Linked DNA regions of Homo sapiens. The protein of the gene in region 1 interacts with the protein of each later gene in a biochemical or structural test. Each region holds a gene or a part of one and is shown in the gene's direction. Other genes may lie near its edges.

Region 1 (3,500 bases):
ATTCAGTAACTGTTGGTTGAAGTACATCTTCATTGGAACACTGGCCACATAGTGTCCCTTTGAGCACCATCCTTTGGTTTTCCAGGACGCCTGCACACCCTTCACGGATATTGGTTTCTTCTGGTCTGGCATTAGATGTAGGCGCGTTCTTCCTTTGGAGATTCTTAGAAGAAGGAGGCCAGGTGAGGGGTAGGGGTAGGGGCAGGGACAGAGCAAAGTGAGAGATGCAGGAGGAGTAGCGGGAGTGAGGAGAGCGCAGGAGGAAAAGCAGAGCAGGGTGTGGAGAACAACGGGGGAGGAGGCACAGCGGGCGGCAGCGAGTAACACTGAGTGGGCAGGGCAGGGCAGCGGTGAGGAGGAGCAGCGCCTTGGGGAAGGAAGAAAATGTCCTATTTCCTTGAGAAGGTCCCCAACAAATTCACTTTGCTCCTTCTTTTTTGTTTTAGCCTTTGCTCTTGACCCTTCTTAAACTTTCTTGATTCTTCTCCTTCTTTTTCCTCATCTGTACTTTTTGCTCCTTGTTTCTTAGCTATTCTGGGATCTGAAGCAAATTCTAATTCTAAAACTTAATATTGGAAATAAACTTGTAAAACTACTTTATTTTTCTGTTTACTAAGGCCCAACTATTGGCCTCATTGCATTTTATATTTTATCAATGAAGTTGACTTTGGCCTTAAATAAAAGCTAAACGTTTGAAGTTATAAAAACAAGTGCTGTGGCCGAGCATGTGGGACATGCCCATAGTCCCAGCTGCTCAGGAGGCTGAGGCGGGAGGATTGCTTGAGTCCAGTAGTTTGAATCTAGCCTGGGCAACACAGCAAGATCCTGTCTCTTAAAAATGAAATAAAAACCAGAAACAAGTGCTAAGATTATTTGTTAATACAGTGTTTAATCATACTTTTAAATATTAACAATAAACTGATTTTATTAAAATTTATAGAAAGCTTTCTAGTAACAGCATTATAAGGTCACAGCTTTTGTTAATCTGTGTTATGTAGAATTCTTTTAAAAGAATTTGATGTTTTGATGACTTTTTAAATGGTTAGTGTACATATATATTTCCTAAGCTGATGTTTATGCCTTTTTTCTTCTTATTTGAATTTTTAAATTATTTTTTTTCTGTCTTCACAGTCACAAACTCGCAGAACCCCAAGTCTTTCGAGTCTCAATTCCCAGGATTCCAGTATTGAAATTTCAAAGCTTACTGATAAGGTGCAGGCCGAGTATAGAGATGCCTATAGAGAATACATTGCTCAGATGTCCCAGTTAGAAGGGGGCCCCGGGTCTACAACCATTAGTGGCAGATCTTCTCCACATAGCACATATTACATGGGTCAGAGTTCATCAGGGGGCTCTATTCATTCAAACCTAGAGCAAGAAAAGGGGAAGGATAGTGAACCAAAGCCCGATGATGGGAGGAAGTCCTTTCTAATGAAGAGGGGAGATGTTATCGATTATTCATCATCAGGGGTTTCCACCAACGATGCTTCCCCCCTGGATCCTATCACTGAAGAAGATGAAAAATCAGATCAGTCAGGCAGTAAGCTTCTCCCAGGCAAGAAATCTTCCGAAAGGTCAAGCCTCTTCCAGACAGATTTGAAGCTTAAGGGAAGTGGGCTGCGCTATCAAAAACTCCCAAGTGACGAGGATGAATCTGGCACAGAAGAATCAGATAACACTCCACTGCTCAAAGATGACAAAGACAGAAAAGCCGAAGGGAAAGTAGAGAGAGTGCCGAAGTCTCCAGAACACAGTGCTGAGCCGATCAGAACCTTCATTAAAGCCAAAGAGTATTTATCGGATGCGCTCCTTGACAAAAAGGATTCATCGGATTCAGGAGTGAGATCCAGTGAAAGTTCTCCCAATCACTCTCTGCACAATGAAGTGGCGGATGACTCCCAGCTTGAAAAGGCAAATCTCATAGAGCTGGAAGATGACAGTCACAGCGGAAAGCGGGGAATCCCACATAGCCTGAGTGGCCTGCAAGATCCAATTATAGCTCGGATGTCCATTTGTTCAGAAGACAAGAAAAGCCCTTCCGAATGCAGCTTGATAGCCAGCAGCCCTGAAGAAAACTGGCCTGCATGCCAGAAAGCCTACAACCTGAACCGAACTCCCAGCACCGTGACTCTGAACAACAATAGTGCTCCAGCCAACAGAGCCAATCAAAATTTCGATGAGATGGAGGGAATTAGGGAGACTTCTCAAGTCATTTTGAGGCCTAGTTCCAGTCCCAACCCAACCACTATTCAGAATGAGAATCTAAAAAGCATGACACATAAGCGAAGCCAACGTTCAAGTTACACAAGGCTCTCCAAAGATCCTCCGGAGCTCCATGCAGCAGCCTCTTCTGAGAGCACAGGCTTTGGAGAAGAAAGAGAAAGCATTCTTTGAGAAAAACAAGCAAAGGAGAAGAGTGTTACTGTACCTTTATGACAGAATTGTCCTGGATTTTGACTCCATCCACGCCCATCACCTTTCTACATTTTGCTGACAGATAACTAACCGATGATGAGGCCGAGGTAAAAGAGACATCTGCAGTGTGACAGAAGGGAGCATGAGAAGCATGGCTCACCAGCCAGCCTCTGTGGTCTTTGTAATTAGAAGCTTCAGAACTCACTAATACTACTGTACCTTTCATTGGCGCATTACCCCATAAAACTTTTTGAGACGAGGTGAGATCTGAGTATAAAGATAGGTCAGAAGTATTTTAAAGGGCTTAATGTGCCAAAAAGAAAAAAAGCTAGAGACCCTTTTTGCAAACATTTGGTGACCACACATTTGAGGGAAGACGTGGCGTTAGGTGAAGCAGAAGCAAACCCTGCTCTTAGGGGCTCACCTAGGTGAGTGCACAGCCTGTGACGCTACAGGGAGAGGCTGAGTAAACCGAGATCCAGCGTTCTGTATGGCAGGGGTATTGCTTATCACAGAGGTTCTGAAGAGTAGGAAGTACATAATGAAGAGGGCTTTAAAAATTGCCAACAAAGTGAGTCACCAGGGCTGGCAGTAGTGTGACGGGGCTGTCCTGAGCTGTTAGGAGAGTAGATGCGGGGAGGGCTGGTGACCTCCGTGGGTTTATATGTCGGAAACTCTTCTCTCCAAATCCCAGGCCTGGCTTCCAGCACCATCCAGCTGTGCCCAAGAAGCCACCCTGGTCTGTTCTCCAACTCTTTTAAATGGTGCCCAACTTTTCTAAGTGAGCTTAGCAATGAGAAGAAAAAAAAACATGAATTCTTTTTCTGGAAAATCAGGGAGACATGGGTAATAATAGGTACTAATAAATATTTATAGATGAGTGAATGAGGAAATAATTACATCAAAAAGGTCAGTGACAATTGATAAATGACAAGGAAATATTTAATTAGGTAAAACTAAATCATTGCTCTCTATACTAGGATAGACTTTATCTACTTCATCTGTTCCTAAGTCAGCATGTTAGTTCTGGGGAAGGATCATAAGAAAGGAAATACTTTTTAAAAAAAAATTTGGAAACATGTAAC
Region 2 (3,500 bases), on another chromosome or scaffold:
ATGTAGTTCAAAGAACACCTACATACCTTTCACATAGATTCATGATTTGTTAATGTTATGCCACTTTGTATATATCTCTCTCCCTCTATCTGTATACTTTTATTTATTTATTTTTGCTGAACTATTTCAGAGTAACTTAAAGGCATCTTGATTTTACCCTTGAACAGTTCAATATGTTTCTGCTAAGAATTCTCCTATATAAGTCAGATATCATTACATCTAAGAAAATTCACGGCAATTTTACAATATAATATTATAGTCCAAATCCATATTTCCTCAGTTGTTCCAAAAAATGTTCATGGCTGTTTCCTTTTTTAATCTAAATTTGAATCCAAGTTTGAGGCATTGTATTTGGTTGCTGTGTCTCTAGGGTTTTTAAAATCTGTGCCTTTTCTTCTCCCCATGACTTTTTAGAAGAGTCAAGACCGGTTATTCTTATAGAATAACCCACATTCTAGATTTGCCTGATTAGTTTTTTTATACTTAACGTATTTTTGGCAAGAACATTACATTGGTAACGCTGTTGGTGATGGGTCAGTTTTGAAGAGTGGAGATGATTAAACTGCTTTTGTTCATTGAAGTATCTGTCAAGACCAGAGATCCTTAACTGGTGCCATAAATAGGTTTCAGAGAATCCTTTATATATACACCCTGTCCCCCACCTAAATTATATACACATCTTCTTTATATATTCATTTTTCTAGGGGAGGCTTCTTGGCTTTTATCAAATTCTCAGAGGGCCCCAAGACCCAAAGAGGTTATGAAACACTAGTCTGTCCACTGAGGCAGGCAACACAGAGCTGGTTTCTGGGGCCTTGTTCAGTCTGAACCAGCTTCCCTTGGGGAGATAGCACAAGGCTGTAACTTTGCCCCATCTTGGCTTTGGATCAAAGAGGACTGTCCATTTTGTTGTCATACCTAGGAACCAGGGACAGCTTATGTGGCCTGGTTCCAGGGATCCAGGAGAATTTCAGTTCTTGTCTTGCCTTTCAGGTGTTCAGAATGCCAGGATTCCCTCACCAACTGGTACTATGAGAAGGATGGGAAGCTCTACTGCCCCAAGGACTACTGGGGGAAGTTTGGGGAGTTCTGTCATGGGTGCTCCCTGCTGATGACAGGGCCTTTTATGGTGAGTGAATCCCTTCATATCTGCCCCTCTTGGTCTTCAGAGTCCATTGACAGTGCTTCCAGTTCCCTGTGGCCTGTTAATCTTTTAGTCTTTCCATCAGCCAGGGCATCTCCCTTTATTTATTCATTCATTCAACTAGCAGGTATCAATTGAGCACCTACTAAGTGAAAGGTAAGATCCTTCCCTCAAAGACTTAATAGTTGAACGTTGGGAGTGGGAGGAGAGGCAGGCAGAGAGGAGACACAATATAGTTGGATAAGGACCTCCAAGGAGAGTGTTACAGGCTGAGAGGAGGATATACTTAGGTTGTCTTTAGGGAATCAGAAAAGGAGACTCTGGAATAGGCTGGCAGAGAGAGGGGCTACCTCCTATACCTGCTCTGGACAAACGACTTTAAGCATAGTGACAGACTTGCCAACCCTGTATTGGAAGAACTGATCTTTTTTAGTGGGGATGATTACTTCTGGGGATTTCTTCTCATAACTGAGACCAAAACAGTTTTGTGCAGTCTCAGAAATGACAGGAGGTACCAATCTGACACTTCCTTTGGAAGCTCTAGGGCAGAGAGTGAAAGAGTGGATTTTGACGGGGGCCTTGCTTGGAGGTCATTCACCCACCCCTGTCCTCACTCCAGCAACAGTGATAACTCACTTCCTTCCTCCCTTTGTACACCCTTCTCCCCACCTGCTCACAGGTGGCTGGGGAGTTCAAGTACCACCCAGAGTGCTTTGCCTGTATGAGCTGCAAGGTGATCATTGAGGATGGGGATGCATATGCACTGGTGCAGCATGCCACCCTCTACTGGTAAGATAGTGGTCCTTTGTCTATCCTCTCCCATATAAGAGTGGCTGGCGGGGAGGGACAGTGGCAGGGTGAGTTGGGCAGAAGGAGTGTTAGGGTAGTCAGAGCATTGGATTCTTACCACAGCAGTGCTCTTAACCAGCTCTTTAACTTGTAAGCAGAATGATTTACACATGTCTCTACCCTTTTTCCTTACCAACCTTGAAAATGTCTTCACTCTGCCCTGCAATCCTCCCAGTGGGAGGCACTCTTCAAGGACGATCCCAGAACATTAAAGTCAAAGACCCCTTAGAGCTCACCCTGTCCAACCACCTTGGTTGATAAAAGAAGTCAGCCTGGGGCCCATGGAATAGAATAGTACAAGGGCAAGGTTCTCATTGTGAGTCAAAGGTAGAGTGAAGAGAACCCAGACCATCTCACCCCAACCCAGGCCAGTGTTTTTCCAAATATACCACTTGCTGCAGATCTAGCTCAGCACCCCCAGTCCCAGCCCACCCTGAGAACCCAGGCTCCTCATTCTGAGCAGCCAGCTAGAATCATGACAAAGAGGGTGGTAGTGAGACTATGGGTACTGTTGCTTAAAGCCACATGGTGCAGTGGTTGCTGGGGGGCTTCTGTGTGGGACTCTAGCATCTTATTCCCCCCTGTGCCCTCTCCCCAGTGGGAAGTGCCACAATGAGGTGGTGCTGGCACCCATGTTTGAGAGACTCTCCACAGAGTCTGTTCAGGAGCAGCTGCCCTACTCTGTCACGCTCATCTCCATGCCGGCCACCACTGAAGGCAGGCGGGGCTTCTCCGTGTCCGTGGAGAGTGCCTGCTCCAACTACGCCACCACTGTGCAAGTGAAAGAGTAAGTATTTTGAGAACCCTTCAGCAGGGGTTCTTGAGCAGAGTCTGTAAATGGGCCTCAGAGGGCTTAGACCTCCAAAGTCTCATGCAGAACTCCCTTTATTCTCATCTCATATCTTTCTCCTGGACCCCACTATGCTGTAACCGTACCTGGGCCTTGGCACTTACTGTTCTCTCTGCCCAGGCTACTTCCTACCCGATACTTAAGGCAAGAATCACTCACCTTTCAGGTGTCAGGTTTCAGGTCATGTTTGCTCTTTGAAATCATCTGGCTTGATTATGTGTATTAGTTGTTTATCTTCTATCCCCTCCACTAGAATGTAAATTCCAGAAGAAACTTGCTGTCTTATTCAGTGCTGCATGCCCAGGGCTTGGAAGAGTACCTGGCATATAGTAGGAGTTGATTGATTATTATTTTGTCAGTCGAGAGAATGAATGGAGAAAATGTGGTCCATGGCCCAAAAGAAGTTAAGACCCTATCCTAGATTCAGGCCAGAGACCAGATGGAGAAAGAGTCTGTGTCTATCTAATACCAGTAATGTCGTACCTCTGGCCGCTTACCATGTAAATATTGATTGTGTATCTACCATGTGTTGGACACTAGGCTAGTGCTTGCACAGCAGGTGAAAGATACTAGAGTTTGGGAAGTCAGGAGGAGCTAAGGTCTGTTCTACAACCTTATTAGATGAAGAGGAGAGGGAATTGTGTTCAGGGCAGAGGG
Region 3 (3,500 bases), on another chromosome or scaffold:
TCACCTTCCAGCATTGCGGTCCTGGAAAGCAGGGACAATGCCTCTTTATCTTTTCCCAAGATCTGTTGTAGAAGCTGGAATGCTGAAGGCACCCAGCACATACCCTGGTCTGGAAGGGCTGGTGGGGGTGCAGTAGCCTACCCAGCATCAGCTCTTCATTCCAACTCTAATAGAGACAGGAGGAGACCAGGTCAGTGTCCACACTGCTCTTGGCTGGGTCCAGGTGACCTCAGAGCCTGATCTTATAGATGTCTTCTTTCCTCTGGCCGAGAAGGACCTGAGAAGTGCTTGGTAAGCCCCTGGCTGAAAACTGATTTGGTAATGGGTTCTAAGACCCAGAAATGTTGCATCTCCAGAGCTTCTGCTTGTGTGTGCACCTGAAGCTTCCCACTGCCCCCAGGTTAACTTGTTATTCCAAGACCAGGTGTGAGCACAGATTTAACAGCAAATTGAGACATTTATTGAGTCTCTACCATGTATTAGGCCATAGGGCTACAGAGGTGAACGCTGAACCCCTGCCTTGGAAGGATTCATGGTGGATTTGGAAAGACAGTTTGTATATGTGTATGTGCGTCCCCATCCATCTGTCCATGGTCCTGTAAGTACTTTAAAAGGATAAGCTAGGTGCAAGAGACACCAGAGGATGCAGCCATTCATTCCGATGGGCATCAGGAGACACTGTGGAGCGTAGTTCTAACCATGGGGAGAAGTTAGTTCTAACTTCAAGGCATAATTTGAATTAAGCCTCAAACTTAGGAACAAGATGGCATTTAGGGCAGGCAAAACAGCAGGGGCAAAGGCATGAAGAGACTTTGTGGATCATAGGCGTGGTGATTCTTCTCCAAGTCCAACCTGGTCTTTTTTGTTTTTTGAGACAAGGTCTCACTCTGTCATCAGGCTGGAGTGCAGTGGCCCGATCATGGCTCAAGCAGTCCTCCTTGTACCTCGCACCTGGGACTACAGGCATGTGCCACCACACCCAGCTAATTTTTTATTTTTTGTGGAGACAAAGTCTTACTATGTTGCCCAAGCTGGTCTCGAACTCCTGGGCTCAAACAGTCCTCCTGCCTTGGCCTCCCAAAGTGTGGAGATATAGGCGTGAGCCACCGCACCCAGCCAAATCCAGCCTCTTGGTGTTCACTAATGCAGAACCCACCTGCTCTGGTTCGGGTCTGCTTTATCTCTGTACATGGGCCAGGCCTCACCTAGCCCAGGGCTAAGTGCCTATTCTCCTTGTTTTCACCTGGATGGGAGCAATGCCACTGTGTTGTCTTTGAGGCAGGAGTAACTTCTGCAGGGATGCCTCTGGTTTTAGTTATCAGCACTAATCTGTACTTATTGGTTGCCACACACTGTTGTGAGTGCTCTCCAAATAGTAACTTAATTCATTTAATCTTCACAGCAACCCTGTCGCCAGGCTGCCTCCCAGGTACAAGTAGGTGGGGGCTGAACTCCTCTGCCCAGTGTATGTCCCTCTGTGGGTGATGCTCTGATTGTGGCCCGGCCTCCCCCTGGCTGCCTTTACATAGATGTGCCGGGAAACAGCCCAGTCTGAATTGCAGTGGAGCACTGACCCCATTTCCTTTAGGGGACCGGCAGGACTGTGCTGACTGCGTTTTCTGAACCAAAGAACGGGATCTGTAGTGTGAAAAAAGAATGTGTGTGCCACTGCTTTGTGCAAGAGGAGGCCTGAGAAGTGTTTGGATACTGAGAGAGTGGAATTTTTGAAACATTTTGATGGTTTATATGGAAAGTTAGGACAGAGGATTTGAAATTGGAATAGTCCTGGAAAATTGAGGTCCCATGATTTACTGTTAGGATACACAAGCTTTTAGTAAATGTTTAAGCAGTGTAGAGTGAAGTGAATTTTTTTTACTGAGCCCCCATAGGGAACAAACAGTGCATTTTAGCCTCAAAATCTGACTGATTCCTTCCAGCCCCATTTTACAGAGGGGGTGAGAAAACTGAGGCTCAGAGAGATGAAGTAACCACCAAAGAGCACAGTGTTTGTAAGCAGTGCAGCCGAGATTTGTCTTTTTGGTTTTTGTTTGTTTGTTTGTTTTTTAAATATAGAGAAAGGGTCTCGCCATGTTGCCAGGCTGGTCTTGAATTCCTCGGCTCAACTGATCTTCCTGCCTCAGCCTCTCAAAGTGCTGGAATCACAGGCGTGAACCACTGTGCCTGGCTGCAGCCAACATTTGAACCCAAGTCTGTGCCTAGACAAATCATCTGTTGTCAAAGTCAAATAAAATATAAAAACAGATGTTTCTCTAAATTTAAAACATTTTGCTTGGGAAGTAAGAATAATAATTTGGGAAATCTATACAGACTAGGTGGTCTTTGGTTTGGAAAACAAAGAGAATGTTGGGAGTTTTATTAGAATGAGAAATATTATGTATTGTTTTGAAAAAAGTCCATCGGCACTAGAGAAGCTCTTCGGGAGCTGGCAAGCTCTGATTGTTGCATGATGGTAGCAGATAAAACTAGTCTTAGGGTCACAGCAATTTGTTTCAGTAGTTATTAAATAAAACTGGTTTTAGGTTATAACAGGCAGTTTTAGCAGCCACGCTTGCAGAGAATTACATTTTTGGAGCAATGTTATGTGCCCTGAGTATTTTTCCCCTGGCCTCTCAACTCTGATTTAGTTGGGCATTACAATAATGACCCAAATTGTATAATCAACTTCCACCCTGTAAAATGAGGATCATAATTGCACCTATTCCCTTTAAGTTGACTGTTGTCAATGAGCTAATGTGGAAAACTAAGGCAAAACTTGGCATAGAAAAGGGGTCCCTCACTTTGTGGTCAGACCCCTGACCCTCCAGACAAGTGCTTTGATCTGTGTTCAGTGCTGAGAGTCGCTGTGGGTGAGTGAAGGTCCCTCCTCAGCCAGGACCACAGGTCCCGGTTCTCAGGACTGAAGGGATATTCCAAGAGGGAGCATCCAGGACTGTGCAGGGGCCATGGCTGCCTGAATGCTGTGCTGATGAGGGTCCCCTGGCGTAGGAGTGGGGTTGGAGACCTGGCCCATGCATGTCACCTCCCTCAGCCACATCAGCTCAAGGGCTAGCCCAGAGGTTCTCGGTGAGGGAGGCAGCAACCAGCTCCATCAGCTGTTTTTTGACCGCCAGCCACCATTGGGCCTGGGGAGGGGAGGTTGGCCTCTGAGCTCAGTCTTCCCCACTGGCTCCCCCGAGTCCCCTCCCCTGCTCTGGTTATCAAATGCATTCATGGTTCTTGTAGAAAATAAAGTGTCAGGGAACACAAGAAAAATTATGCATGATGCTTCTCTGAAAGCAGCTGGTCCACTGTCAGCACTGCCATGATCTGCACATGCCCTCTCCTGCTTCCAGTGGATTCTCTACTCCACAGACGGGGGAGTCTTCCATACACTCCTATTTTTCTCAAAATGAAGACAAAGCTGATCTCTCAGCATCTCCTGCAGGCCCTATGTTCATGCTCTTTGAGCCCTCACCTCACCGTGCTCCTTCCTGCTGCAG
Region 4 (3,500 bases), on another chromosome or scaffold:
CTGTGCTCGGTGGCTCGTGCCTGTAATCCCAGCACTTCGGGAGGTTAAGGCAGGAGGATCGCTAGATCCCAGGAGTTTGAGACCAGCCCTGGCAAGATAGTGAGACCCCATTCCCACAAAAAATTAAAAAATTAGCTGAGCATGGTGTCATGCGCCTTTAAGTCCCAGCTACTTGGGAGGCTGAAGTGGAAAGATTGCTTGAGCATGGGAGGTCGAGGCTACAGTGAGCTATGATCATGCCACTGCACTTCAGCCTGGGCAACAGAGCCAGACCTTGTCTCAAAAAATGAATGAATGAATGAATGTAAGTTGTATATATTTAATATATTTAATCTCCATGCATGGTGAAACAGCTGTGGGAGAACTGAGAAAGGGTGCTTAGTCTAACCTGAGAGCCCAGAAGAGGAGCCTCACACACCTGTGAAGTAGAAGCCAATCCCTGAAGGGACAGGAGGAAACAAGAAGCATGGTTGTGCCTCCTCTTTACATCCCCTGTTCTAATTATTTAAGAACTCAAATCTAGACTTCCATAATTTGGAATGGGGAAAGGATTGCCAGTAATTTTAATCAGCATAGAATTCAACTCTGTGAATAAACCCCTTTGCGTTTCTCCTGACCAGTAGTTAAAATCATGTGAATTTGATTCAGAGAAAAATACAAGAACATGGCCAGGTGCAGTGGCTCACGCCTGTAATCCCAGCACTTTGGGAGGCCAAGGTGGGTGGATTGCCTGAGTGCAGGAGTTTGAGACCAGCCTGGGCAACACGGTGAAACCCTGTCTCTACTAAAATACAAAAAATTAGCTGGGCATGGCGGCGTGTGCCTAAGAGGCTAAAGGCAGGAGAATCACTTGAACCTGGGGGGTGGAAGTTAAAGTGAGTCGAGGTCGTGCAGCTGGACTCCATCCTGGGCGACAGAGTGAGACTCTCTCCAAAAAAACAAAAAACAAGAACACTGTCATGCTGAGAATGGAATCTTGTCCAATTAAGAGTTGTGTTCCCAGCCGGATGTGGTGGCTCACGCCTGTAATCCCAGCACTGTGGGAGGCTTAGGCGGGCGGATCATGAGGTCAGGAGATCAAGACCATCCTGGCCAACATAGTGAAACCCCGTCTCTACTAAAAATACAAAAACTAGCTGGGCGTGGTGGCATGCATCTGTAGTCCCAGCTACTCCGGAGGTTGAGACAGGAGAATCGCTTGAACCTGGGAGGCAGAGGTTGCACTGAGCCAAGATCACACCACTGCACTCCAGCCTGCCAACAGAGCGAGACTCCGTCTCAAAAAAAAAAAAAAAAAAAGAGTTGTGTTCCCATGGAAAGTACTAGTAGCCATTCGATTTGTGACTTTTAAAACTCAAATCCACAGAATTGTGACCTAAATTTTTCCTTTTGATCTGAATGATTAGACTAGATTTCTGAGGGTCTTTAAGATTAAAATATTTTAATTCTGGGCCGGGCGTGGTGGCTCACGACTGTAATCCCAGCACTTTGGGAGGTCTGGCAGGTCGGGAGTTCGAGACTGAACCTGGGAGGCAGAGATGACAGTGAGCCGAGATTGCGCCAGCGCCACTGCACTCCAGTCTGGTCAACAGAGCGAGACTTCGTCTCGGAAAACAAAAAACAAACAAACAAAAAACATTATTTTAATTCTTTCAGATAAGTAAAAGGGGGCACAGCCTATTAGTTGGGAGTTCAGATTAACTTGAGTTGAATCTGAGCTAAAATCATAACAAGTTGGGTGGGGCCACCAGGCACATAGCAACTCACCTGGAATGAACGTGACAAGAACAGTGGAAGAGGATGAGAAGAGGCTTTGAAGGTGCACACTCAACGGTATTCGAATTCTGTCACACCAGTTTTGTGACAGTATTAAACCAGAGTTAGGTAATTTGAATACCTGAGCTTTTGTGCTTTCAGAAACAAAAAAGGAGGGAAATAGGAAAGGGAAGTTCTTTGATATATAGAGGCCTACAATATACCAAAGCTCACTGCTAGACTCTTGGAATCTAATGGAAGTAAACCATGTTTTTGTTTTTGATTTTTGTCTTTGAGAAGCTTTGGTCTATTGAAAAAATTAGAATGCCATGACAGCTTAAAAGCAAAGGCAATCAACTGTACCTAAGAGGTGGGGAGAGGCTTGAAAGAGGAGATGCTCTTCAACTGATTCTTTAAGGATGAGAACAAGTATACGAGGTAGAAGAGGTGGTGGTAGAAGAGATGGTGGCAGTGCTTGCTGGTAAAGACACAGTTATAATTAATGTAGATGATGGGCAGGAACCTAGGAAGGAAAGATAAAGCCAACTTGTAAAGGGCCTCCTCAGCCTTGTAAATGAGCTTAACAATGGGAGCCATCTAAAGTTTTTAAAAAGAGAACTGTCAGATTTTAAAAGGAGAACTGATGAGTTTTACTTTTGAGAAACTGCTCTGGGTGGGGAAAGATCTGAAGGACTAATTCTCTGTTACTGGAGAGGGACCCTGAGAAGCTGAGCCAAGATCAAATGCCATAGGAATGTAAAGTGGCACATAGAAGGTGAGGGGAGAGGTATGATGACTTCAGAGAGGATTGAGTGGTGCCTTTGAGACAAGAGAAAGGGATTAGGGTGGGTGCGTGATTCTTTTCAACAGGAAGAATCTTTCTTTGAGGTACCTGCTGGAAGCCAGGTGGTATTTAGCAATCTGATGGGTTTGTTATTGAGAAGAGAGGTAAGGGCTGAATACATATAGATTTGGGAATCGCAGCTTAGATGGGATCACCCAGAATGAGGAGGCAGAACAGGAATAAGTAGAGAAAGAGAAGCTGCGGAAGGAGAGGCAGCCACAAGCATAGGAGGAGGAGCCATTAGTGATGGCCTGAAAGCCCAGGGACAGAAGGGAGGGGACCTGGGCATTAAATGCTGGTCAGTGATAAAGAATGGTGGTTACTGGCTGGACATGGTGGCTCACGCCTGTAATCCTAGCACCTTGGGAGGCGGAGGCAGGTGGATTGCCTGAGCTCATGCGTTCGAGACCAGCCTGGCCAACACAGTGAAACCCTGTCTCTACTAAAATATAAAAAATTAGCCAGGCATGGTGGCGTGCGCCTATAGTCCCAGCTACTCGGGAGGCTGAGGCAGGAGAATGGCTTGAACCTGGGAGGCAGAGATTGCAGTGAGCCAAGATCGCACCACTGCACTCCAGCTTGGGTGACAGAGCAAGACTCCGTCTCAAAAAAAAAAAAAAAAAAAAAAAAAGAATGGTGGTTAAAGCAGTTTCACTAGAGAAGTACTTAGCTCATCTTGGAATTGAATTTTTTTTTTTTTTTTTTGAGACAGTGTCGCTCTGTCGCCCAGGCTGAAGTGCAGTGGCATGATCTCGGTTCACTGCAGTCTCCACCTCCCGGGTTCAAGTGATTCTCCTGCCTCAGTCTCCTGAGTAGCTGCGATTACAGGCGCCCACCACCATGCCCGGCTAATTTTTGTATTTTTAGTAGAGATGGGGTTTCACCATATTGGACCAGGCTG

Evidence for each region. The genes of interacting proteins can lie anywhere in the genome.
Region 2: the proteins of KIDINS220 (region 1) and LIMK2 interact in a test that uses a peptide from one of them, tested with the Homo sapiens proteins (one large-scale study listed by IntAct).
Region 3: the proteins of KIDINS220 (region 1) and PTPN3 interact in a test that uses a peptide from one of them, tested with the Homo sapiens proteins (one large-scale study listed by IntAct).
Region 4: the proteins of KIDINS220 (region 1) and CRKL form a complex in vitro, tested with the Homo sapiens proteins (one study listed by BioGRID).

What each region holds. Positions count from the first base shown.
Region 1 is NC_000002.12:8,729,614-8,733,113, reverse strand, and holds part of KIDINS220 (kinase D-interacting substrate of 220 kDa), read left to right. Parts: intron 1-1,131; coding exon 1,132-2,394; 3' UTR 2,395-3,500. UniProt on the Homo sapiens protein: Promotes a prolonged MAP-kinase signaling by neurotrophins through activation of a Rap1-dependent mechanism. Provides a docking site for the CRKL-C3G complex, resulting in Rap1-dependent sustained ERK activation.
Region 2 is NC_000022.11:31,257,298-31,260,797, forward strand, and holds part of LIMK2 (LIM domain kinase 2), read left to right. Parts: intron 1-993; coding exon 994-1,129; intron 1,130-1,823; coding exon 1,824-1,933; intron 1,934-2,591; coding exon 2,592-2,780; intron 2,781-3,500. UniProt on the Homo sapiens protein: Serine/threonine-protein kinase that plays an essential role in the regulation of actin filament dynamics. Acts downstream of several Rho family GTPase signal transduction pathways.
Region 3 is NC_000009.12:109,491,808-109,495,307, reverse strand, and holds part of PTPN3 (tyrosine-protein phosphatase non-receptor type 3), read left to right. Parts: intron 1-3,500.
Region 4 is NC_000022.11:20,923,907-20,927,406, forward strand, and holds part of CRKL (crk-like protein), read left to right. Parts: intron 1-3,500. UniProt on the Homo sapiens protein: May mediate the transduction of intracellular signals.